4 separate regions of the Homo sapiens genome follow, and all the other regions are reported to be linked to region 3. Evidence: microRNA targets listed by miRTarBase, many of them from high-throughput screens and not tested one by one. Region 3 holds a microRNA gene; each other region holds the end of a gene's coding sequence.

Region 1 (5,474 bases), not on the chromosome of region 3:
TTAGTGTGATCTACACCAGTGGTGTGCAGTATTCTCCAGTGATAAGTAGCATCAGTGTCACCTGGGAGCTTGTCAGAAATGTACCTTATTGGGCCCCACCCAGATCTACTGAATCACAAACACTAGTGGTGGGTCCCAGCACTGTGTGGTCCTTAATGAGTCCCTGTCTTAGTAGTCAATTTTCTGTTGCTGTAAGAGAATATCACAGGCTGGGTATTTTATTATAATAGAGGTTTATTTAGCTCACAGTTCTGGAGGCTGGGAAGTCCAAGAGCATGGCACTGGCATCTGGAGAGGGCCTTTTTGCTGCGTCATGTCATGGTGGAGGTTGTCACATGGTGAGAGGACAAGTGTGTGCCAGCTCAGGACTTTCTTCTTCTTATAAAGTCACCAGTCCCATCTTGGGGGCCCTACTCTGATGACCTTATCTAATCCGAACTACCTCCCAAAGGCCCTACCTCCAAATGCCATCAACATATTAATTTGAGGATTAAGTTTCCAATACATGAAATTTGGAGGACACATTCAAACCATAGCAGTCCCCCTGGTGATTCTGATGCACACTCAAATTTGAGGCACACTAGTCCAGCCTTGCCATTCTTGGTGAGGTTCAAGGACTAACACTGGCATCACCTGTGAGCTAGTTGGAAATGCAGAATCTCAGACCCCAACCTGGACAGGCTCACTCAGAATCTGTGAGATCACCAGTTAATTTATTTGCATGGTAATGTTAAATAGCTCTGATCTCAACACAAATGCCTCAGGGGCCAAGTAGGTCATGTCAGTAGTGAAAGTAGCCTGGTTTCCCCCGTAAAGAAAGTAGAACAATAAGAAGGCATTGTGGTGTGAAGTTTTAGTATTCTTGATTTGTTTTTAAAAATCCTGTATTATACCAGTGGGGGTTAACACATTCAACCAAATTCATCAACTAAGGTTAACTGCAGTTGACATCAATTACTTTAAGCAGATTTTTAAACACAGAATTTTAATAGTGACCCTCATATTAACTTCTTCTGATCTCTTTTAGGAATTTATCAAAGAGCTGCTTTCTCGGATAAGAGGCATGAGGAAACTGAGCCCTCCGCAGAAGAAGAGTGTATGATTCTGGAACAGGGTGAAACTCTCCCAGAGACGAAGAAAGAGTCCTGGGATTTGTACTTCATGAAGACTTTTGTGAAAGAATAGGTGTCCTTATGAACAACGTTTTTGTTTTTTTTTTTTTCTTTTTTGGTGTGAAGGTGGGGGGGTCTATTAGACATTTATTCAAGAGCGTTCTTTTTTTGGTTTTAAAGGTTTTTGTTAATGTAATATTTTAATAGCAAAGATATCATGACTCTAGCCACAGCCTAACCAAGGATTATCAAAGGAGGTGGACACTCAAGGAAGGGCCACGCCAGGCTGCGTTTCCTGCAAGGACTCAGATGTTCAGTACCTTATGATACAGGGAAGATAGTTTTCTTACAAGTAGTTTGGTAATATTTTTTTTCTTAAGTTGTACATTTGACTCAGCTGTCAAATTTCTCACACTTGTATATATCTACACACAACTAAGTTAAAATGTTGATGTGAGTTTTATTTCACATGGATGGAATAAACTTGTGGTTGTCCTTTAACTGGAGGTCCCAGCACATGTGTTTTCAAGAGGCCACTAGGCATTCTTCACTGAGTGCTGCTGACTTCAACGTTCACTTTATGCACCAAAGTGAAAGAATTCAGTGTATCCGTTATTTTAATGCACTACACCACAGAAATGTTAAGTTGGTCAAGGGCTTAATTTATGGAATTTCTATTATTTCATTGGTTGGGATGCTTTGCCAGGTCATGTGCTTATTGTCTCATTTTGTAGTCTTTTAAAGTTGTATGAACCCTTAATTTGAAGAACTAACTTGATTTCTAGAGAAATATCCACACTATCTCAGTGGTATTTTGCATTGGAAAAAGGAAGCACTGTGTAGCAGTGAATTGTCTGCTTTCCACCGAGTACTGTGTTTATTCTCTCTCCAGGAAAGCAGATCAAAAGAAAGTTAGCAGATCGAGTGTCTTCTTCCTTAGAAATAGGTTCTGGTAGCTTCTGTGCCTGGGTAGTATCAGACCAGTGGGAGTAAACCGAGTGTTAAGTGTCAAGGTGAGAAAGCCTCACATTCTCTCAAGACAGTTGCTCTAGGAGCTGAGTTGCTGGTTTGGAAGTGTGGAGATTGCATTTCTGGCTTCTCTCAATGGCTTGTGTTGAGGACTCTGGGTGCTCCTGGCCCTAATTGTGCACCCTGATCCCCGTGCTTGGAGCTAGGCCTGGTGGCGTGCTCTAGCCCTCTCAGTTACCAGCTCTTTGGAGAAGGATCAAAATTCAGATGGAATGTGGGATGGGTAATAGGTGAGAGTAGAAACCCTTCCCTCCAGGAGGCCCCCGCTGACTCCCACAGAAACCCACCTACCATAAGATGTCTTCAGGTGGCCTTGTCCAAGGATGGGGGTCAGGCATTTTATATCAAGGGTGCTCTGAACATATTTTATTTTTTAAAAAAACTATGTTTGTGAATTTTGCGTATACTGGCAAGCTTTTGAAAATGTATTTAATTTTGTATTGTTTACCAATGATTTATTTACAAGATATTTACTCAAATAAATGGAGCTGCTTACAAGCCTGTTGACATGTGTGGCTTGCACAACACGTTAACATGATGGTTTTGCTGTGTCAGTTTCTCTGCAGAGGTGAGGACCAAGCACCTCACCTCGTTTCATTTCATTTTCAAGGATTTCTAGGCATGTAATCCTGGCCCTCTCCTCAGGCATCTTCAGATCAGGTGGTGAAAGCAAAGGAGCTGGGCCACATTCTTGGGCTGAGAAAGAAGACGAGCTCTGTGTGCTCAGCCTGGCACTGTCCTAGGCCATGCTCCTTTCATTTAATTAAAACTCCTCTTTGCCATCTTACAAGAACCCTCAAAAACATTTCAAATTAGTAAACTATTCCACTTGTTAGAATGCCTTGCACCATGGAAGTCGGAAAAATACAGAATGGGCAGGATTTCTGTTAGGCTTAATTGACCAGCCCATGTGATGGTCTCAGATGAAGTAAGAATTGACTTTTCCTCCAAAGGCCTCTGCTCCCACCACACACTTCCTCCCCACCTTCCCTCCTGCCCTGATCCCCGTGAGTGCTTCAGCAAGAAGTTTGGGCCTCTTCCTTGACTCCCCAGTATGCTCCCAGTCACCCAGCTTGTCCTCTGTGAATACTTCTCAAACCTATCCCATGTCCAACTTTCCTGGATTGCTGCCACCACCTTGGGAACAGATTCTCCATGTCCAGGCTTGTCTCCCTCTGATCCATCCTCCACCCAGTTGCTAGAATAGTCTGACGACTCCACCCCCTGCTTGAAACCCGAACCCTCTGCATGCCTTATGAGAAATGTTGTCTCTGCCTCTCCCACCTCATCTTTTGGCCTTGTGCTCATGCCCAGTTCTGCCAAATTCCTTGGAGTTTCTGGCGTGTTCTATGTATTTTCTTCTCTGGTGCTTTGTAAAATCTGTTGCCTTGGCCCAGAACGCCCCCTCTGCCAACAGGCTGTATCCAGAGAGCTGGGTTAGACCCCCTCCTAGGTGTGTTCCCCCTCAGCTCCAGCCTATACTCTGTCATAGACGCATCCACAGTATCATTATTGCCTATCCATTTGTTGGTGTCTTCTGTTAGAATCTGGGATCCTCGAGGCTGGGAATCTGGACTTCACCAAGCATCTGGTCCTAGGCTTGGCCCATCAAAGAGATTGTGTGTTTGCCAGTTGAATGAAAATGACAAAAGATTCAAGAAAACTCCACTGTTTTCTTCCCAGCTAGAGTTGTGGTTCTTAGATCTGAGTGTACATTTGAATCACTGGGAAGCTTTAAAAACAATGGAAGCCTAGGCCTCAGTCAATTCTGACCAGTTAAATCAGCGTCTCCAGGACAAGAGCTGGGGTGTTTGTTTTCAAGCTCTCCAGCTTGCGCATCGCTGGGCCATTGGGTCACTCTTGTGCCATTGGATGGCCAGATGCATTAGCCTGACCTCAGCTCTCCATGTTTATGCTATTACAGCAGGTGGCAGCTGTGGTATTAGCACACTCACTATTTCTCATACAGAGTCTTCTCACTAGGGCAATGGCTCCAAATTATCCAACTTCTAGTGCCGCGCTCACTTGAACATTGGGAAATCTCAATGTAAACTTCATGGAGTGGCTTCCATTTATAACGATCATAATAAAAGCACTGTGCTAAGTGCATGCTTTATCTCATTTAATCCTGACCTTAACCTTATGAGGCAGGTGGCATTCTCATTTTACAGATAAGAAAATAAACTCAGGCTTAGCAGCTTACCTAAGTCCACACAGCTACAACACTGAGATTCAAACCCAAACCTATTTGGCTCCAAAGTCCCATAACCATTAGACTTTCTTGCCACTCTTAGGGAATTACTCTTAGTCCCACTCACAAGAGTGAACCCCAGAAGCCACATTTAAAGTGAGCCAGGTCCCTGAGCTGGCAGGGTAGGGGAGGAGGCCTTGTGGATGGAGGAGATCCCAGCCACCTGTGGGGCTCTTCCTCACTCCTGGGAACTGAGGGACTCCCTGCTCCCCATCTGCAGTGCAGCCAGGCCCTGTGATGCTGGCCCTCCTTATCCAGAGTCCTCTTGCCTTTTCCCCATAACATAAAGCTCCTGGACTTGGGCTTAGCAGCTGAGCAAGGAGTATCCAGCCATCAGTTTCCTGAGAAAGAGCAGCTCAGGACAAGGTGATTTTCAATTCCTGAAACACAGGAATTAAACAGGTTTTTACTTATTTATCACTGACATAGTTTGGATATTTGTCCTCTCCAAATCCCATTTTGAAATTTGATCTCCAGTGTTGGAGGTGAGAGGTGTTTGGGTCATGGGGGCAGACCCCTCATGAATGGCTTGGTGCCATTCTCCTGGGATTGAGTGAGTACTTACTCTTAGTTCCCTCTAGATCTGGTTGTTAAAAAGAGCCTGGCACCTCCTCCCCTCTCTGTCTTACGTCCTCTCTTGCCATGTAACAAGCCGGCTCTCCTTCTGCCGTGATTGGAAACTTCTGAGGTCCTCACCAAAAGAAGATGCTGGTGCCATGCTTCCTATACAGTCTGCAGAAGCACGAGCCAAATAAACCTCTTTTCTGTATAAATTGCCTGCCCTCAAGTACTTCTTTATAGTAACACAAACAGCCTAAGACAATCACCTAAAGTCTCCATAAAAGATTGTGTGCTGTGCAAAATCAGCTTTTGGAAACCTAAGCTGTTTTTGACATGACTGCTGTTTAGCAAGAGAGTGGCAGGTCCACAGCTACTGGACACATCCCCATCCCTACTCAGCCACCCTATTTTTGCCTCTGAGTGAAAGGTTCTGGGGCTTCCCTCTGCTTCCTGGGAACCTTTCCTGGAATCTAGCCACTTTGAGAGTGAGCCTGTGTAGTCATGAGTCATATCTGTCCCTC
Region 2 (5,474 bases), not on the chromosome of region 3:
TTTGATGATGAACTCTGATGGGGGCTCCAGGGGCCGGTTGGAGGCTCGGTCCACGGCTTGGGCCAGTAGCACATATTGCGCCTTTTCCTCCCGGTCAAGGCTCTTGGTAACATGAATATTGCCTGTGGCCTCATCAATCACAAATACGGTGCCTGCCCCCTCCCCGGTCAACAGGTACTTGGTGCGGCCCTCTCCCCGGTCAACATCCGAGTGCAGCTGCAGGGGTCACGAAAAGATGGCAGAGGGCTCCAAGTACAGAGACAGGGTTAAAGAGTCTAGGTTTGGGTAGAGCGTTGGGAGTCCTGAGGGACCAAGGTCATTGCAGAAGTGATGAAGTTGCAGGGCAGGGCCTGAGGGCTTGGTGTCAGAGTAGACATGGGAGGGGTCATCCTTACCTTGCCAATGAGAACAGGCTCTGGACCAGCATATTCCTCAATGACAAAGAACTGGTTCCAGACCCAGCTCCTTCGAGTCCGCAGCAGAGCAGGCCCTGGGTGTTCCCGGGACCCTGCCCAGGCCCGGGCTGGGGCTGCCAGACGCCCCATGCAGCCCCAGCCACCCAGCCAGGCCAGCAGGAGCCTCACCAGGCCCCACATGTTTGGACTCCAGCCAGGGCTCTGTTCACTGGCCCTGGGTGCTGAGGCTGGGCCAGGCCACGTGGCCCATGAGCTGGCTGGGGTGGAGGGGCAGATGCGTTGAGGCTACCCCATGGATCCACACCTGCAGGACAAGCAGCTGCTCAGGCTCAAGGAAACCCCTAGCCCTCCTCCCCCGCAAAATTAGATGCTGAAGACCAGACCTCCAAGGAACCAGACACTCCACTGCCCAGAACTCAGACTAAGACAGAGAGCAGAGAGGCTGATCCTTCCTCCACCCAGGCTCTGCATGTATTCACCTCCAGCCCTCCAAGCTGATAAATCTCTGGTCAGTCAACTCTGAGTAGAGAACTGGGGAGGAACACAGGAGAGGGGATGCTGGGAGGGCTTGGAATCCCAAATCTGGTCTCTGTCCTCCCAGGTTGGGCACGTAGCCAGGTATTGGAGGAGGCGGGGCTACCAGAGAAAGGGCTTAAAATTACGGAGTTGGGATTCATGGAGGTGTGGCCTTAAGGTGTCTAGGGTCAGCATGAGATGACAAGGAGTGCAGCCTCAGGCAGGGCTGAGAGTCTGTGAAAGTCCCTCCCCACAAGGGGGAGCCCCACTCTCCAGGCCCTGTCTCCAGCCCACGCTGCCAGTGCAGTCCTTGAAGGGGGACTGGGCTCGTGAGACAGGAGTTGGGAGCCAGAGCTGAAGGAAGAGGATACAGGGTGGGGGACAGGGGGAGGTGACCGGGGAGAGAGGTCCACCCAGAGGCTAGAGACAGATAATGACTGACGGCTAGACTGACTCAGGGACTGTCCGGCAGAGAAATGACTGGATGAGAGACAGAAACAGAACAGTGGCAAGAGACAGAATGAGAGAGACCAGGGCAGCAGCCTGGGTGTCTGAAGGCAGAGAGGAGTCCTAGGGGCCAGGCTTGGAAACGGGTCACCGGGGGCAGTTCCGGGCAGGCAGGGGCAGACCTCAGCTTCGGGGGTGTCAAGCCAGGCCTCGGGAACTTAATTCTGGGAGAAGGAGCAGACAGGAGGGGTGGAGGCAGGGAGGGGCCACGGGAAGGGAGCTAGAGAGGAGACCCTTCCCACTGCTCTCCTTTCTCCTAGGGGCGGGGGGGAGGACCCCTCAGGTAGCTGTGGCTTCTGCCCCTCCTCCCTCAGAGCAGACACACACCTGACAGTCCCTTTGCTCCCGAGGGAAGGGGGAAACCGGAGGAAGGCTGGGGACCAGAGAGAAGGCGGGATGAGGAGGCGAGAAGGAAGGGGATAGAGGAGTGGGAAACAGGATAGCAGGAAGGGGAGAGGAGAGGGAGGGAAAGGAGAGCAAGAAAGAGAAAAGAGAAAGGCAGGAAAGGGGAGAAAGGTAGAGAAAGAAAAAGGCAAAGAGGGAGAGGAGATGGAAAAAGGACAAGAGGGAGAGGGAAGGGTTGGGGAGACAGAGGGAAGGGATAAGGAAGGCAAACAGGCAGAGAAGGAAGGGTGAAGAGAAATCGAGAGAAGAAAGAGGGAGAGAGGTGCGAGGGGAGAAGGGAAAGAGGCAGAGCGCGGGAGAAGGGAGCCGGCAGCGGGCTCCCAGCCACGGAGCGCACCCCTCCGAAGACCCCCGCAGGCTGCGGGCCCCCTCCTACCCCTCCGCGGATTCCCGACCCCTGCTCCGGGGCAGGCGCCCTTACCTGGCACTGCCGAGGGGCCCAGGCCGGCGGGAAGCGCCCCCGCCCGCCCCCGTCGCCGGGTCCCGGGGGCACAGCCCCGAGCCGATTGGAGCGGGCGCCGCGGCTCCGCTGCAGGTCTGAGCGGCCCCGGCGAGAACAAGGGAGCGAGACGGAGGGGGCGGGGGAAGAAGACTCCGCCTGCGGAGGAGCGAGGCGGCTCCGCGCCGCGCGGGAGAGGAGAGCCCAGCCTCCGACCCTCCCCGGCCAGCCGGGCCCGCGCGGCGGGGGCGGGGGCGGAGGCGGCGCCGCGCGTCCGCCCCCTCGGCGCTCCTGGGCTGCGGGGCGCATACAGATGCGGCGCCCCTCCCGGACCGGGCCCGCAGCGCCCGGCAGGGCACTCGGGCGGGAGGACGTCCAGGCCACGGCGCCAGGCCATTTCCGAAGAGCTGGCGGGGCGGGTGCACCCGGGAGCGCGAAGCTGCCAGTCCCCGCCCGCAGCGGAAAACGGGCGAGCGCGCGGTGAGGTGGGGAATTCGGAGCCCACTGCGGAGAGACCCGGCTCCGGGCTCCCGGTTCCCGGCTGGCTTTTGGGACTGGTGTGGATGGAATCCCAGCTGCAAGGCGGCGGCGTTTTGAGAGCCCATGCAAAGCACGGTAGCAGGTCAGCTGGGGGACACTTAAGGACGGCAGAAGGGTCCAGAGAGTCCGAGGCCCGGGCCCAGGGAGCGGGTCGGGAACAGAGGCACGACATCGGCGGGAGGTCGGAGGCGGGCAGTGGAACCCTTCTTGGGAAGCTCGGTTACAGGGGCCAACAGAGCGAGGAGCTGCCGCCCCCTGGTGGTAGTTGTGGGAGGCACCAAGGTGGCAGGCAGGTGACCAAACCCCTAATTTAACCGTGCACAGGACCAGGAACCAGAAGAGGACCCACCCTCCTAGCCCTGCTGGGGTGCCGCCACGGACACAGGTTGCTCCATGCCTTCCCGAATGAGGAAGGTCCACAGCTTTGGGTTGGTCAGGGCCAAGGCAGGGGATAAAAGACGTGGGAAGTTCAATAAGCAGGAAGCAGTCAGCCTAAAGGAACACATGGAATGAGAGCAACTCCTACTCCAGATATCCTCAGATGTCCACGCTCAGATATCCACAGTGGCTTCTTAACCTGCCCAAAGAAAGCCACTCACACAGTTTAAAACTAAGTCAGATTTTTATTTTTTTTTCCATAGACCACATCATTTAATAATAAAAAAAATAAAAATAAAAATTGAACAAAAGGAAAAGGTGGATATAAAGTGGAACCTGTGGGAAAGAGGCAAGGGCTGCAGGACAGAAGAGACTGGGAACTGCAGGGGCCCTGGGACTCAGGAGGAGATGCTGATTCAGCTCATAGGTGACCCAGTCCTGGCCCCGGCTGTTCCCAAGAGAAGGCTGTAAGTACCCAGGGAGGTGGTAAGCAGGATGGAGGAAAAATCAGAGGACTGGGGCACCTGGCTGTTCCCCATCTCTGGCCAACCACCTCCTTGCCTAACCTAGCTCTTGCCTCTCAGACTTAATGGGAAATGAGAGGGAGGGTCGGGCTAAGTCCCAAGAGATAGGTTAAGGGGGTGTGTTTGGGGGGAAAAGGATGGCCACTTTTCCATTTGGTATGTATGTAGGGATAGGTGATGTGAAAGACCCTTGGCTCCAGGGTGGTGGAGACTGTGCCTATCCCTCTGTGGCCATAACCCCCTGGGGCCGAGTGGCTGGTACCTGCAGCTCTAGTGTTTTCCCAGCTAGCGGCGCCCACCCCGGTCCCGCACAGGTGTGCTCCGACTCCGGCTTCTGCTGTGGCGCTTGGTGTCCCTGCGATCCCTTTCCCTGCCTCGTTCTCGGTCCCTTTCCCTATCCCGATCTCGGTCCCCCCTGTCCCGCTCCCTTTCTCTCTCTCTCTCCCTGTCCCTCTCCCGACTGTGCTCCCGACGTTTCTCTCGCTCCAGCTGTCGGTTCCGTTCCCGCTCGGCTTCCTTCTCCCGCTCCTTTTGCTCTTCTTCTTCTTGCTCCTTTCGCCGCTTCTCCCGCTCCTTGGCCCGTTCGGCCCGCTCTGCCTCTTTCTGAACGATCTGTAGCCAGGTAGGAAAGGCAGAGAATAGGCAGCTCAGTCCTGGTCACAGCCTCCATTTGTGCCTGGACCCTGCCTCCTAGCTCAGGGTCAGCTTTTCAGTTAAACAGGAAGGGGTTGGGGGCTCAACAACTGCATCCTGTCTTTCTTAGAGCACCTCTCTCCCTCCTAGTTTCAGCCTTTTTTTTTTTTTTTCTGAGACGGAGTCTCGCTCCGTCGCCCAGGCTGGGAGTGCAGTGGCACGATCTCGGCTCACTGCAAGCTCCACCTCCCGGGTTCACACCATTCTCCTGCCTCAGCCTGCTGAGCAGCTGGGACCACAGGCGCCCGCGACCACGCCCGGCTAATTTTTTTGTATTTTCAGTAGAGACGGGGCTTCACCGTTGTTAGCCAGGATGGTCTTGATCTCCTGACCTCGTGATCCGCCCGCCTCAGGCTCCCAAAGTGCTGGGATTACAGGCGTGAGCCACCGCGCCCCGCCAGTTTTTTTTTTTTTTTTTTTTTGAGACAGTCTCACTCTGTCGCCCAGGCTGGAGTGCAGTGGTGCTATCTTGGCTCACTGTGGTCTCCGACTCGCAGGTTCAAGTGATTCTCCTGCCTCAGCCTCCCTAGTAGCTGGGATTACAGGTGTCTGCCACCATGCCCCACTAAGTTTTGTATTTTTAGTAGAGATGGGGTTTCACCATGTTGGCCAGGATGGTATCAAACTCCTGGCTTAGATGGAGGCTTAGATGATCCGCCCACCTCAGCCTCCCAAAGTGCTGGGATTACAGGCATGAGCCACCATGCCTAGCCACCAAGTTTCAACTTTTACACACATTGACAGGTACTGGCACCATCCATGCCTGGCCCTTGGTATTTCCCTAGCTCCCTACCGTCAGCGTAGATGTGAACAAATCTCTTTTTTGAGTAGCATAAGCCTAAAATTCCCAAAAGGCCCATTACTAAGAAACTAAGTTAAAGATGCAAAAACTCTTAAAAAGCAGGGAAATGAATTTATAAAACACGATTTCTCAGCTAAATACAATCAAGTTCTTTTTTTTTTTTTAATTGTCTGAGACAGAGTTTTGTTCTTGTTGCCCAGGCTGGAGTGCAATGGCACGGTCTCTGCTCACTGCAACCTCCGCCTCCCGGGTTC
Region 3 (5,474 bases):
TTGTCTCCGCAGCTCATTTCCTCCAAGGTGCCCAAGGCTGAGTACATCCCCACTATCATCCGCCGGGATGACCCCTCCATCATCCCCATCCTCTACGTGAGTCCCGCCCCGGGCCTGCCCCCAACAGATGCCCTCTTGCGGCCCCACCCTGGGCCAGCGCCGGCACCCCAGGTCCCCAGGGTGCTGTGGCGCTGCTGGCTCTGACGCAGCCTTGATGTGGCCTTGTGGCCTGTGTCTGTCCCCAGGACCATGAGCACGCAACCTTCGAGGACATCCTTGGTATGTGCCTCATTGGCCTTCTCTCTGCTGGTTCCAGGCCTGGGAGGGGCAGACACAGGTGGGGGTGCCCCTGGGGCTGGGGTGGGGGCCGCAGCACTCACACCCGCTCTCCCACAGAGGAGATAGAGAGGAAGCTGAACGTCTACCACAAGGGAGCCAAGATCTGGAAAATGCTGATTTTCTGCCAGGTGGGGCTCAGTGCTCGTCTCCTGACCAGGAGAAGAATCGTGGTGGGGCAGGGGAAGACCAAGGGGAAGAAGTCAAGTTGGGGGAGACCAAGGGGAAGAGGTTGGGGTGGGGAGACCAAGGGGAAGAGGTGTTTGTGGGGGAGACCAAGGGGAAGAGGCGTGGGGGTGGAGACCAAGGGGAAGAGGTGTGGCTGGGGGAGACCAAGGGGAAGAGGCTGGGGTGGGAAGACCAAGGGGAAGAGGTGTTTGAGGGGGAGACCAAGGGGAAGAGGTGTGGCTGGGGGAGACCAAGGGGAAGAGGCTGGGGTTGGGGAAGACCAAGGAGAAGAGGCGTAGATGTTGAGGGGGAAAGATCAAGGAGAAGAGGCGTGTGGCGGGGGGAAACGAAGGGGAAGAGGCGTGTGGCTGGGGGAGACCAAGGGGAAGAGGTGTGGCTGGGGGAGACCAAGGGGAAGAGGCTGGGGTTGGGGAAGACCAAGGAGAAGAGGTGTAGACATTGAGGGGGAAAGATCAAGGAGAAGAGGCGTGTGGCGGGGGGGAAATGAAGGGGAAGGGGCGTGTGGCTGGGGGAGACCAAGGGGAAGAGGTGTTTGGGGGGTAGATCAAGGAGAAGAGACGTGGCGGGGGAAGACCAAGGGGAAGAGGCGTGTGGCGGGGGAGATCAAGGGGAAGAGACGTGGCGGGGGAGATCAAGGGGAAGAGACGTGGCGGGGGAGATCAAGGGGAAGAGACGAGGGGCAGGGGAAGATCAAGGGGAAGAGGCGTGTGGAGGGGGAGATCAAGGGGAAGAGGCATGGTGGGGAGATCAAGGGGAAGAGGCGTGTGGCCAAGGAAGACCAAGGGGAAGAGACGTGGCGGGGGAGACCAAGGGGAAGAGGCGTGTGGTGGGGAAGACCAAGGGGAAGAGGCGTGGAGGGCAGAACAAGGGGAAGAGGCGTGTGGCGCGGGAGATCAAGGGGAAGAGACGTGGCGGGGGAGATCAAGGGGAAGAGACGTGGCGGGGGAGATCAAGGGGAAGAGACGAGGGGCAGGGGAAGATCAAGGGGAAGAGGCGTGTGGAGGGGGAGATCAAGGGGAAGAGGCATGGTGGGGAGATCAAGGGGAAGAGGCGTGTGGCCAAGGAAGACCAAGGGGAAGAGACGTGGCGGGGGAGACCAAGGGGAAGAGGCGTGTGGTGGGGAAGACCAAGGGGAAGAGGCGTGGAGGGCAGAACAAGGGGAAGAGGCGTGTGGCGCGGGAGATCAAGGGGAAGAGACGTGTGGCAGGGGAAGATCAAGGGGAAGAGGCGTGTGGAGGGGGAGATCAAGGGGAAGAGACGTGGAGGGGAGATCAAGGGGAAGAGACGTGGTGGGGGAGATCAAGGGGAAGAGACGTGGCAGGGGAGATCAAGGGGAAGAGACGAGGGGCAGGGGAAGATCAAGGGGAAGAGGCGTGTGGAGGGGGAGATCAAGGGGAAGAGGCGTGGGGGGGAGATCAAGGGGAAGAGGTGTGGGGGGGAGATCAAAAGGAAGAGGCGTGGCGGGCAGGTCAAGGGGAAGAGGCATTGGGGGGAGATCAAGGAGAAGAGCGTGTGGTGGGGGAGATCAAGGGGAAGAGGCATTGGGGGGAATTAAGAGGAAGAGGCGAGGGGGGGAGATCAAGAGGAAGAGGCGGGGGAAGATCAAGGGGAAGAGGCGTGTGGTGGGGGAAATCAAAGGGAAGAGGCGTGTGGTGGGGGAGATCAAAGGGAAGAGGCGTGTGGTGGGGGAGATCAAAGGGAAGAGGCGTGTGGTGGGGGAGATCAAGGGGAAGAGGCGTGTGGTGGGGGAGATCAAAGGGAAGAGGTGTGTGGTGGGGGAGATCAAAGGGAAGAGGCGTGTGGTGGGGGAGATCAAAGGGAAGAGGCATGTGGTGGGGGAGATCAAGGGGAAGAGGCGTGGGGGGGAGATCAAAGGGAAGAGGCGTGTGGTGGGGGAGATCAAGGGAAAGACGTGTGGTGGGGGAGATCAAGGGGAAGAAGCGTGGCCGGGGGATGAAGACCAAAACTACCTCCCACGCATGTGCGTGGGTGCATGTGTGTCGGAGAGGGGGAGGAAGGAGGAGCAGATGCCTGACCACAGCTTCTTACAGGGAGGTCCTGGACACCTCTATCTCCTCAAGAACAAGGTGGCCACCTTTGCCAAAGTGGAGAAGGAAGAGGACATGATTCAGTGAGAAGCCGGGTGCCCTGGGCGCGGGGAGGGCTGGAGGCAGAGTCCAGGCCCTGGCATGTCCCTCCCCCACAGCCCCTCCTCCACGGTCCGCTCTGTGGAGTGGGGTGCCTGTCCCCTGCCACTGGGTGACCCACCCCTCTCCACCAGCTTCTGGAAGCGGCTGAGCCGCCTGATGAGCAAAGTGAACCCAGAGCCGAACGTCATCCACATCATGGGCTGCTACATTCTGGGGAACCCCAATGGAGAGAAGGTACAGTGACCCCCAAGCCCCACCCCAGACCTCTGGAAACCCCCGACGTGGACAGACAGGGCAGAGCCTTCCATGTTTCCTGGCATTTTTTTTCCTTCCCCCGGGCATTCCCCTAGAAATCCTTTATGCCTGAGCCCAGCCAGGTTTGGGGGGTCTGAAAAAAGAGGGTGGGCCCTGCTCCCCATCTCCTCCCCGCTCCTCCTTCCCCATCTCTCTGCCTCGGACTCATGGCACCCCGCTTCCTCCAGCTGTTCCAGAACCTCAGGACCCTCATGACTCCTTATAGGGTCACCTTCGAGTCACCCCTGGAGCTCTCAGCCCAAGGTGAGTTACCCAGGCTGGGCCGAAGCTCTGCAGCCACTGCGGGGCCACGGTGGGGTGGGATCCCCAGGGCCGGCCAGGCCTGAGCCTCCTGCCCCCGCTCCGCCCAGGGAAGCAGATGATCGAGACGTACTTTGACTTCCGGTTGTATCGCCTGTGGAAGAGCCGCCAGCACTCGAAGCTGCTGGACTTTGACGACGTCCTGTGAGGGGCAGAGGCCTCCGCCCAGTCACCATCAGGCCACTCCCTCTGCACCGGGACCTGGGGCTGGGCCGCCTCGTGCTCCCCGGGACTGTGTGGCTCCGGTCTCGCCTGGAGCCACTTCAGGGCACCTCAGACGTTGCTCAGGTTCCCCCTGTGGGTTCCGGTCCTCGCTGCACCCGTGGCCGCAGAGGCTGCAGTCCCTGGGGGCCGGGAGGATCCCGCCCTGTGGCCCGTGGATGCTCAGCGGCCAGGCACTGACCTGCCATGCCTCGCCTGGAGGCTCAGCTGTGGGCATCCCTCCATGGGGTTCATAGAAATAAGTGCAATTTCTACACCCCCGAAACAATTCAAAGGGAAGCAGCATTTCTTGTTAACTAGTTAAGCACTATGCTGCTAGTTACAGTGTAGGCACCCCGGCCCAGCAGCCCAGCAGCCCACATGTGTTCAGGACCCTCCCTGCCCACCCCCTCCCTGCCGTATCGATCACCAGCACCAGGGTGGCCCGTGTGCGTGGGGCCAGCGTCGCCGGGCTGCCCAGCCTGGCTCTGTCTACACTGGCCGAGTCTCTGGGTCTGTCTACACTGGCCGAGTCTCCGACTGTCTGTGCTTTCACTTACACTCCTCTTGCCACCCCCCATCCCTGCTTACTTAGACCTCAGCCGGCGCCGGACCCGGTAGGGGCAGTCTGGGCAGCAGGAAGGAAGGGCGCAGCGTCCCCTCCTTCAGAGGAGGCTCTGGGTGGGGCCTGCTCCCCATCCCCCCAAGCCCACCCAGCACTCTCATTGCTGCTGTTGAGTTCAGCTTTTACCAGCCTCAGTGTGGAGGCTCCATCCCAGCACACAGGCCTGGGGCTTGGCAGGGGCCCAGCTGGGGCTGGGCCCTGGGTTTTGAGAAACTCGCTGGCACCACAGTGGGCCCCTGGACCCGGCCGCGCAGCTGGTGGACTGTAGGGGCTCCTGACTGGGCACAGGAGCTCCCAGCTTTTGTCCACGGCCAGCAGGATGGGCTGTCGTGTATATAGCTGGGGCGAGGGGGCAGGCCCCCCTTGTGCAGAGCCAGGGGTCTGAGGGCACCTGGCTGTGTTCCCAGCTGAGGGAGGGCTGGGGCGGGGGCCGGGCTTGGAACGATGTACGATACCCTCATAGTGACCATTAAACCTGATCCTCCACCGCGGCCGCCGCGTGGGTCTGTCCTCTCAGTGCTTTCCAGGGGCCTTCCTGTGCCCAGCTTCTGGGCCCACTCCTGTGAGGTCACTGCTGCAGGGCCTTCCTGCCTGGACAGAGTTGGAGCTAGGCCACTAGACCACCCCACAGGGCATAGCCAGGGGGACCAGCACAGGAGGGGACGGAGAGGAGCTGCAGGAGGGCTGGGGGGAGGCTGCAGTCTCGGAGGGGGGCCTCGCCGGGTCTGGAGGGGACAGCAGAGACAGCCCGTTCCCCCTGCCGCCTGAGGGCACCAGGGAGAGGGCTGTATGTCCCTCACGCCACACTGTGTGTGCAGTCAGCAGTGTGGCCACAGATGGGGGCCACTCTCTCAACCTCAGGTGTCCTCAGGGCCCAGACCGCTGCTGGGCACAGCCAGGCTGGCTGCCAGCTGGTTCCCTGCCCCGTGGCTGGGGGACAGAGCAGCACGTATCAGCTGGGCTAGGGTCAGGGGGCCACTGGTGCGCAGCCTGGCACAGCCTGGCAGGCTTGAGGCCCAGTGTGCTGGGGGTGGTCACACAGCCGTCAGCCACCTCCAGCTCTTCCAGGGCATTCTAGATGGGGTCCCGGGAGGGGGCAGGTTTTGGTGCCAATTTGAGTGTATAAAGTTTTAGGTAAATACCAAATGCCTGTAGACTCTGTGTTATTCAGTTACTATTTGAAAGTGACATATCGTGAAATCATGGGGGATCCGAGTCTCCTTTCTGCAAAGTTGATGAGACAAGTCGCCACCGCCTGGAATCTGCTGACGCTGCCGTGCAGGCCTCAAGGGTGGCACTCTTCAAAGTAGGACAGCATGCGAGGTCGCCACGTGCCCACACACTGCACTGCTCCAAAG
Region 4 (5,474 bases), not on the chromosome of region 3:
GAGAGAAGGGGTGGGTGTGAGGGCTCGAGGCCCCGAAGGGAGGAGGTGGGTGGGCGGTGGGAGGGCTTCACCCAGACCTGGCTCCAGACCAGGAAGCCCCATGATGGGGAAGTGTCACCACTGAGGGTCCCCACCCTGCTGGCTCCTGTCCCCCCAGTCCCTTTGGCCATAGCCCTGAACCCCAGCCCTGACCCACCTTCTGACCCAAGCCCTGCGGGGTCCCTTGCGCAGCACAGGAGGGTCCCTGCCCTCCCCCGATGGTGAGCTTGCGGTTTCTGTGTCTGCCTCTCTGGCCCGGGCAGGGAGGGCTGGAGGGAGAGGCCGTCTGTCTGCCTCGCTGGTGTGTGTCTGTCTCCAGTTTTCTTGTCCGCGTGTTGTCCATGCCCTGCTTCTGCTTGCTCCATCGCTCACTCCAAGAGGCCCCCATGTGGGTGACAGAAGGTGGGGGCAGAGGGGGCAGCCTTGGGTCACAGCCAGGGGCAGCAGGCCATCATGGGCAGCAGAGGTGCCAGGGCTCCTACCCTGAGGTCTGGAAGATGGTGGGGGTCACCCTGGATGATGGGGCTGGGCTGCTGGATGGGGCTGGCGGGATGGGACTGAGCACCGGCCCCGCCCATGCCTACACAGAGCTGGTGCCAGACTCCGGGAGGAGGCTTGTCCTCGGCCCCTCCTGTTCTTCACCCCCAGCCCTGCTCTGTCAGCCTCTGCCCTGCAGCATCAGAGGAGCTCTGTGCTAGCTAGGACTCACTCACTGTGCAGCCATCTCAGGTCCTTGCCCAGTGTTCCCCCTCAAACCAGGCCAGTGGGGCTGCTTTTAGATGCATGAGGCTCCCCATGTGACAGACTCCAAGGATATCTCAGTAGAGGGTAGAGACAGTCTGCATCCCCTCCGGGGCCACAGGGAAGGATGGCTGCCAGCCAGCCACAGGCTCACCAAGGAGTGGCGAGCCCTTGAGAAGAGGGATGTTGGGGGGTTGGGGGCGGTGCAGGAACCACTCGCCTTCCCGCCTTCCCACCAGCCCACCTCCTTGTGCTTACACGTGAAGCATGTGATTTCAGCTGGGAGGCCCAAGTGACCTGCCATGGGGCCTTCCCAGGTTAGGGCTGAAGTCCATGCCTGAAAAGGGTCAGCCCTGCTCAGGCCTCAGCTGGTGGGCTGCGGGTCCCAATCCTGAGGCTTGAAATGAGCATGGGGGTGCCCCACACTCGGTGCAGTGGCCGGGGTATGTGTGGGGATACCTGGCAGGCCCAAGCCCAAGGCTGTTCTCTACCCCTTTTTTTGGCTAGGGTCCTGAGAGGCAGGTGGAGGGGGACGGGCCAGGGCGCCCCTGCATTCCTCACCCGGGGCCTGCCTCTCAGGCACACCTCATCTGAACTTCATTACTCCTTCTTTTCCAGCTCCTTCCCGAACTCACAAATCCTGACGAGCTCCTGTCTTATCTGGACCCCCCCGACCTGCCGAGCAATAGTAACGATGACCTCCTGTCTCTATTTGAGAACAACTGAGGGCCACCCGGTCGGGGCCATCCCTCCACACTCTGCATCCTACCCCACCTACCCAACACACTTTTCCACCTGGGAGCCTGTGCCCTCAGACCGCCCCGCACCAGAGCCACGGGCTGTGGGGCGGGGAGCCCTCCCCCGCTGCAGCCCTCTCAGAACAGAGGGGTAGGGAGGGTGCACCAGTGCACCAGGAAGGCTGTGTGGGTCTGGAGCCCACGTCCCACCTCCACACCCTTGGCTTGGGCCCATGCCCAGCGCAGGCCTGAAGACCACCCTCCCGAGAGGAACCAGCCCGGTAAGAGGGCACACGCTGATGCGGCTTCCCGGTCCCTCCGCGTGTGCCGATTCCAGATGACCTTCCAGTGTCCCCAAGGTTCTTCCATCTTCTAGACTGTAACCCTGCCTCCCTGCTTCCTGGTCCAGAGCCTCCCTCCAGTGACTGTGGAGCCTGAGAAGGCCCCCGGGCCCCAGCATGGGCCCCGAGCCTTGGAGGAGCACTGGCAGTTGGTGGCAGTGAGACCAGCCCACCCACCACCACCCACCACAGAAAAGCACAAACCTCTGGGAAAGACAACGTCTCTCGGGGGCCAGGGGTCATCGGTTTGACCCCTGACCTATAAGCCAAGATACCCCATAAACACACTCAGAAAGCAGAGAAAAAGGACAAGAGTCTGTGTTTGAGAGGGGGTCTGCCATTCCTGCTTGGGGACTGGTGGGGAAGAGGGCCAGGACATCTTCTGAGCCAGGACGTCCCTGAGGCTCCACCTCCAAGCTCAGACAGGGCCCAGGCTTGGGGAACAGAGAGAGCAGGTGTACACCCAACCAAAGTGATTGTGCCCTTGGTTGGGGGGCGCGGGCATATAACCTGTCAGAAGCAAACAGGAGCGGCAACTTCTAACTTTGCTCCAAGCCACTCTCTTTTTAAACAGCAACAATTTAAAGCTATGAAGTCACCTGGAGAAAAGGAACGTTGCTCTTGGACAGCAAGCAAACCATTTCTCTCCGTCTGTTCTGTTTTTCTCCTAGTCCCTCTCCTGCCACCTCTCCAAGACTTCCGTGGGACACCCACTTCCCTCTGTCCTAGTTCTCTTTGTCCAATCAGATGGCAAGGGCAGTGCGTGGAAAGGCCGGGGAGGTGCAGAAACCAGAGCCCAGGGCAATGGTGTCTGTCCAGCCCCTCCCTCTGTCCCTGTGCTCCAAGCTGCCCCCGGCTGCAGCCCAGGCCATGGACATGTGCACCAGTATGTACCTGCAGGCATGGGGGGGAGGGGGGCGTGTTTCTGGGCCTGCCCCAGACACTGCCCTTGGCTGCCAGCCTACCCTGCCTGCACTCCTCCACCATCACAATCTCACCCAAACTCCTGCTCACTCAAGCAAAAGCAGCCTCTGGCCTTCCCTCCACCGCTTTGCTCCATCTGGCTTACCACTCTCCAGGGCCTCCTGGGGAGCCTGTCCTGTGTTCACTTTGTTTCAGGCTGGTCTGTGCCCCGTGAGCCACATGGCCTAGGGTGATGCCAGGTTGTCCCGTCACTGGGGTCCCATCTGTAAATTCTTTGCGCCCTTCCCGGCTGCTGCCTGGGGCCCTTTCCTGCTCTCCCGTCCGCTGTGGGTGGTCCCCAGCTCTCCTCTGTGGGTTTTACCGGAAAGGTGGCCCCAGCTGTTGACTTCCAGTCACTGTCCCAGACGGCACAAGGTTTTCTGTAGGAAAGCTGCCATTGCCCCGGCCCCTTTTCTTCCTTTGTCCCGTTGTCGAGGTTTTTTCAAATAGCGTGTTGTTCAGTATGCAAATCAATTATTTTAAGAATCGCTTTTGTAAATATCTTTGTGAATATTTTAGTATCGTCTTTGATAATATTCAACATTTTCATGACCTGGTTATAGCCTTTGCTGGTGTTTTTAAAATACCTGGACTCAATGACAAAGACCGAGTCTTCTTTTTTTTTAAACAAAAACAAAAAAAGCAACCAGGGCTATTTGTACAGTTGAAGGGGTGAACAGAATGGGCGGCTGTGCTGGGAGTTGGAAGACCGGGCAGCCCGCTATTTAGAGCCATCCCTCAGTCAGCTGGCAGGGACAAGCCAACGCCAGGTAGCATGTGGCCACCCTTGCCCAGTGTCTGTGGCCTGGCAAGTGGCCACGCCCTGTGTCAGACCATCTGGGAATTAAGCTCCAGACAGACTTACAGATGCCTTCCTTAGGAGTTCTTGCTTCTTGCGTTGATACTTTGCCCCAGAAAGGCCTGGGATTCATTCTGGTTCTTATCAGGGTGTGTCCACACTCTGCTCACAGGTGGATCCACGGCTTTCCAGTGCGGAGAGTCGAGATGCTCCCTGCAGCCCAGGCCCCGGGCACCTCCTGCAACCATCTCTGGGCTCAGCACCTGAGGCGGGTTTCCTGGGTCCCCTCTCCAGCAAGCCTCCACCAGCAAGCTCGGCCCAGAGCTTCCCTTCCGGCTGGCTCTGAACCGTGCGTGGTGCCTACAGCCTGCAGTCTGGAGACAAGCTCTTCCGGAGTGCTCTGGGAGCCAGGCCAGGGTGTGAGGGAGGTGCAGAGGCATCCGGGGCGGGAGCAAGCCCCAGGTTGTGACAGGTGCAGGTAGACAACGCCCATAAACAGAGATGGTCCTGAACTCTGGAGAGATCCTTCCCTGATCCTTTCGGACGACTACTTGGAGCCATAAGTAACCTCAGCAAAAACGAGGCCTCTGCAAGCCACTTTTCCATGCCAAGCATCCACCCGGCCCACAGGCATGTTTCTGCCGCCACTCCGCAAGATGGACAGGGAGCCAGCAGGCAGGCGGGAAGGGCCAAGTACAGGCAATCACCCCCATCTTCTTGGTTTGAAGCTTTATCCATGTATCATGTTCCGTGTAGCCATTTTATTTTTTAAGAAACTGCTAATACTTTCTCCCTAATGGAAGCCCTGATCCCCCAGAGAGCTACAGGTCTGCTCCCGACGGGCCTCGGGCCTGACCCGTCCACACAGGGCCGTGTCAACAGCAGCGACTCAAGGGACGTGTGTACATATGTAAATGAGAAATAGAGACGTGTCAACAGATGCATTCATTTCTCTTGGAATGTGTATTGTTTTTATTTTGCGAAACAAAACAAAACAAAAAAAAAAGCTTGGAACTCCATCACGTGGAAAAACTAGATCCTGTTGGTTATAGCATTTGTGAGTTCTCCACGTCTGTCTCTCTCGCTCATGTAATATACTCTGACCCTGAGTGGAAAGGGGTTTTTGTTCTGTTTTTATTTTACCTACATGTACTATTTAGCTTCAGTGTACTAGTCCTGCCACCTGTGTATTTTTAGGGTGCTATGGAAATAATGAAAAGAAACGGGGATTTCAGAAGAAAATTGTAACCAAATTCATACTTTGTATAATTTTTGATATCATGATCACAGGTGATTCACACGTACACACATAAACACACCCACCAGTGCAGCCTGAAGTAACTCCCACAGAAACCATCATCGTCTTTGTACATCGTATGTACAATGCAATCATTTCATACTTTAAACTGGTCAAAAAACTAATTGTGATTTCTAGTCTTGCAAAGCTGTATGTAGTTAGATGATGTGACAACCTCTAATATTTATCTAATAAATATGTATTCAGATGAAACCTGTATATTAGGTGTTCATGTGGTTATTTTGTATTTAAAGATCAAATTATTTGACTATTGCTAGACATTTCTATACTCTGTTGTAACACTGAGGTATCTCATTTGCCCATGTTAATTTTTTTCTAAATAAATTGACAAAAACAAAGGTTTGGCGAATTAGCTATTTTGTGGATGTTAAGGAGTGGTTTGGGTGTTTTTGCTTTTGTTTTAAACCACACCCCCCGCCCTGTTACCCTCTGCACACACAAAAAAGAAAGGCAGGTGGTTTGGGTGTTGAATTGGAAGAACCCCTGTCCATGGGGGTCCCTGGAACCAGTCCCTGGTGGGGCAAGTGCAGTGTGTG

What was found. The annotated mature microRNA hsa-miR-7114-5p reads UCUGUGGAGUGGGGUGCCUGU and lies in region 3 at 2,751-2,771, shown strand. An mRNA with a match to its seed (bases 2 to 7 or 8) in the 3' UTR can be bound and repressed. Matches are read on the target gene's strand: a 7mer-m8 pairs with bases 2 to 8, a 7mer-A1 pairs with bases 2 to 7 and ends in A, and an 8mer does both.
Region 1: the mRNA of PPP1R14C is a reported target of hsa-miR-7114-5p. Seed matches in the 3' UTR shown: 7mer-A1 at 1,743-1,749 and 7mer-A1 at 2,415-2,421.
Region 2: the mRNA of ACIN1 is a reported target of hsa-miR-7114-5p. Seed matches in the 3' UTR shown: 7mer-A1 at 3,950-3,956.
Region 4: miRTarBase lists ZMIZ1 as a target of hsa-miR-7114-5p. Seed matches in the 3' UTR shown: 7mer-A1 at 2,045-2,051 and 7mer-A1 at 4,965-4,971.

Annotation. Positions count from the first base shown.
Region 1 is chr6:150,247,719-150,253,192 of GRCh38, forward strand. PPP1R14C (protein phosphatase 1 regulatory inhibitor subunit 14C) reads left to right here. Exons shown (of 4, transcript NM_030949.3): 4 at 1,028-2,674. The coding sequence ends at 1,102. Among named protein-coding and RNA genes, the nearest start is that of PPP1R14C, 110 kb to the left of the region's middle.
Region 2 is chr14:23,055,138-23,060,611 of GRCh38, forward strand. ACIN1 (apoptotic chromatin condensation inducer 1) reads right to left here. Exons shown (of 19, transcript NM_001386863.1): 19 at 3,427-4,337. The coding sequence ends at 4,011. CDH24 (cadherin 24) reads right to left here and starts at 2,383. Exons shown (of 13, transcript NM_144985.4): 1 at 2,266-2,383; 2 at 396-720; 3 at 1-216. The coding sequence starts at 596. LOC105370705 (collagen alpha-2(I) chain-like) reads left to right here and starts at 2,523. Exons shown (of 2, transcript NR_169511.1): 1 at 2,523-2,905; 2 at 3,148-3,512. RefSeq lists silencers at 2,263-2,382, 2,463-2,612.
Region 3 is chr9:137,447,358-137,452,831 of GRCh38, reverse strand. MIR7114 (microRNA 7114) reads left to right here and starts at 2,746; the gene lies at 2,746-2,806. It overlaps NSMF (NMDA receptor synaptonuclear signaling and neuronal migration factor), which reads left to right. Exons shown (of 16, transcript NM_001130969.3): 10 at 13-96; 11 at 246-279; 12 at 397-467; 13 at 2,577-2,656; 14 at 2,807-2,909; 15 at 3,158-3,233; 16 at 3,341-5,262. The coding sequence ends at 3,438. RefSeq lists enhancers at 1-627, 2,364-3,563.
Region 4 is chr10:79,311,244-79,316,717 of GRCh38, forward strand. It overlaps ZMIZ1 (zinc finger MIZ-type containing 1), which reads left to right. Exons shown (of 25, transcript NM_020338.4): 25 at 1,399-5,276. The coding sequence ends at 1,506. Among named protein-coding and RNA genes, the nearest start is that of PPIF, 33 kb to the right of the region's middle. RefSeq lists enhancers at 537-1,037, 1,795-2,294 and cis regulatory regions at 5,336-5,474, 5,362-5,474, 5,368-5,474.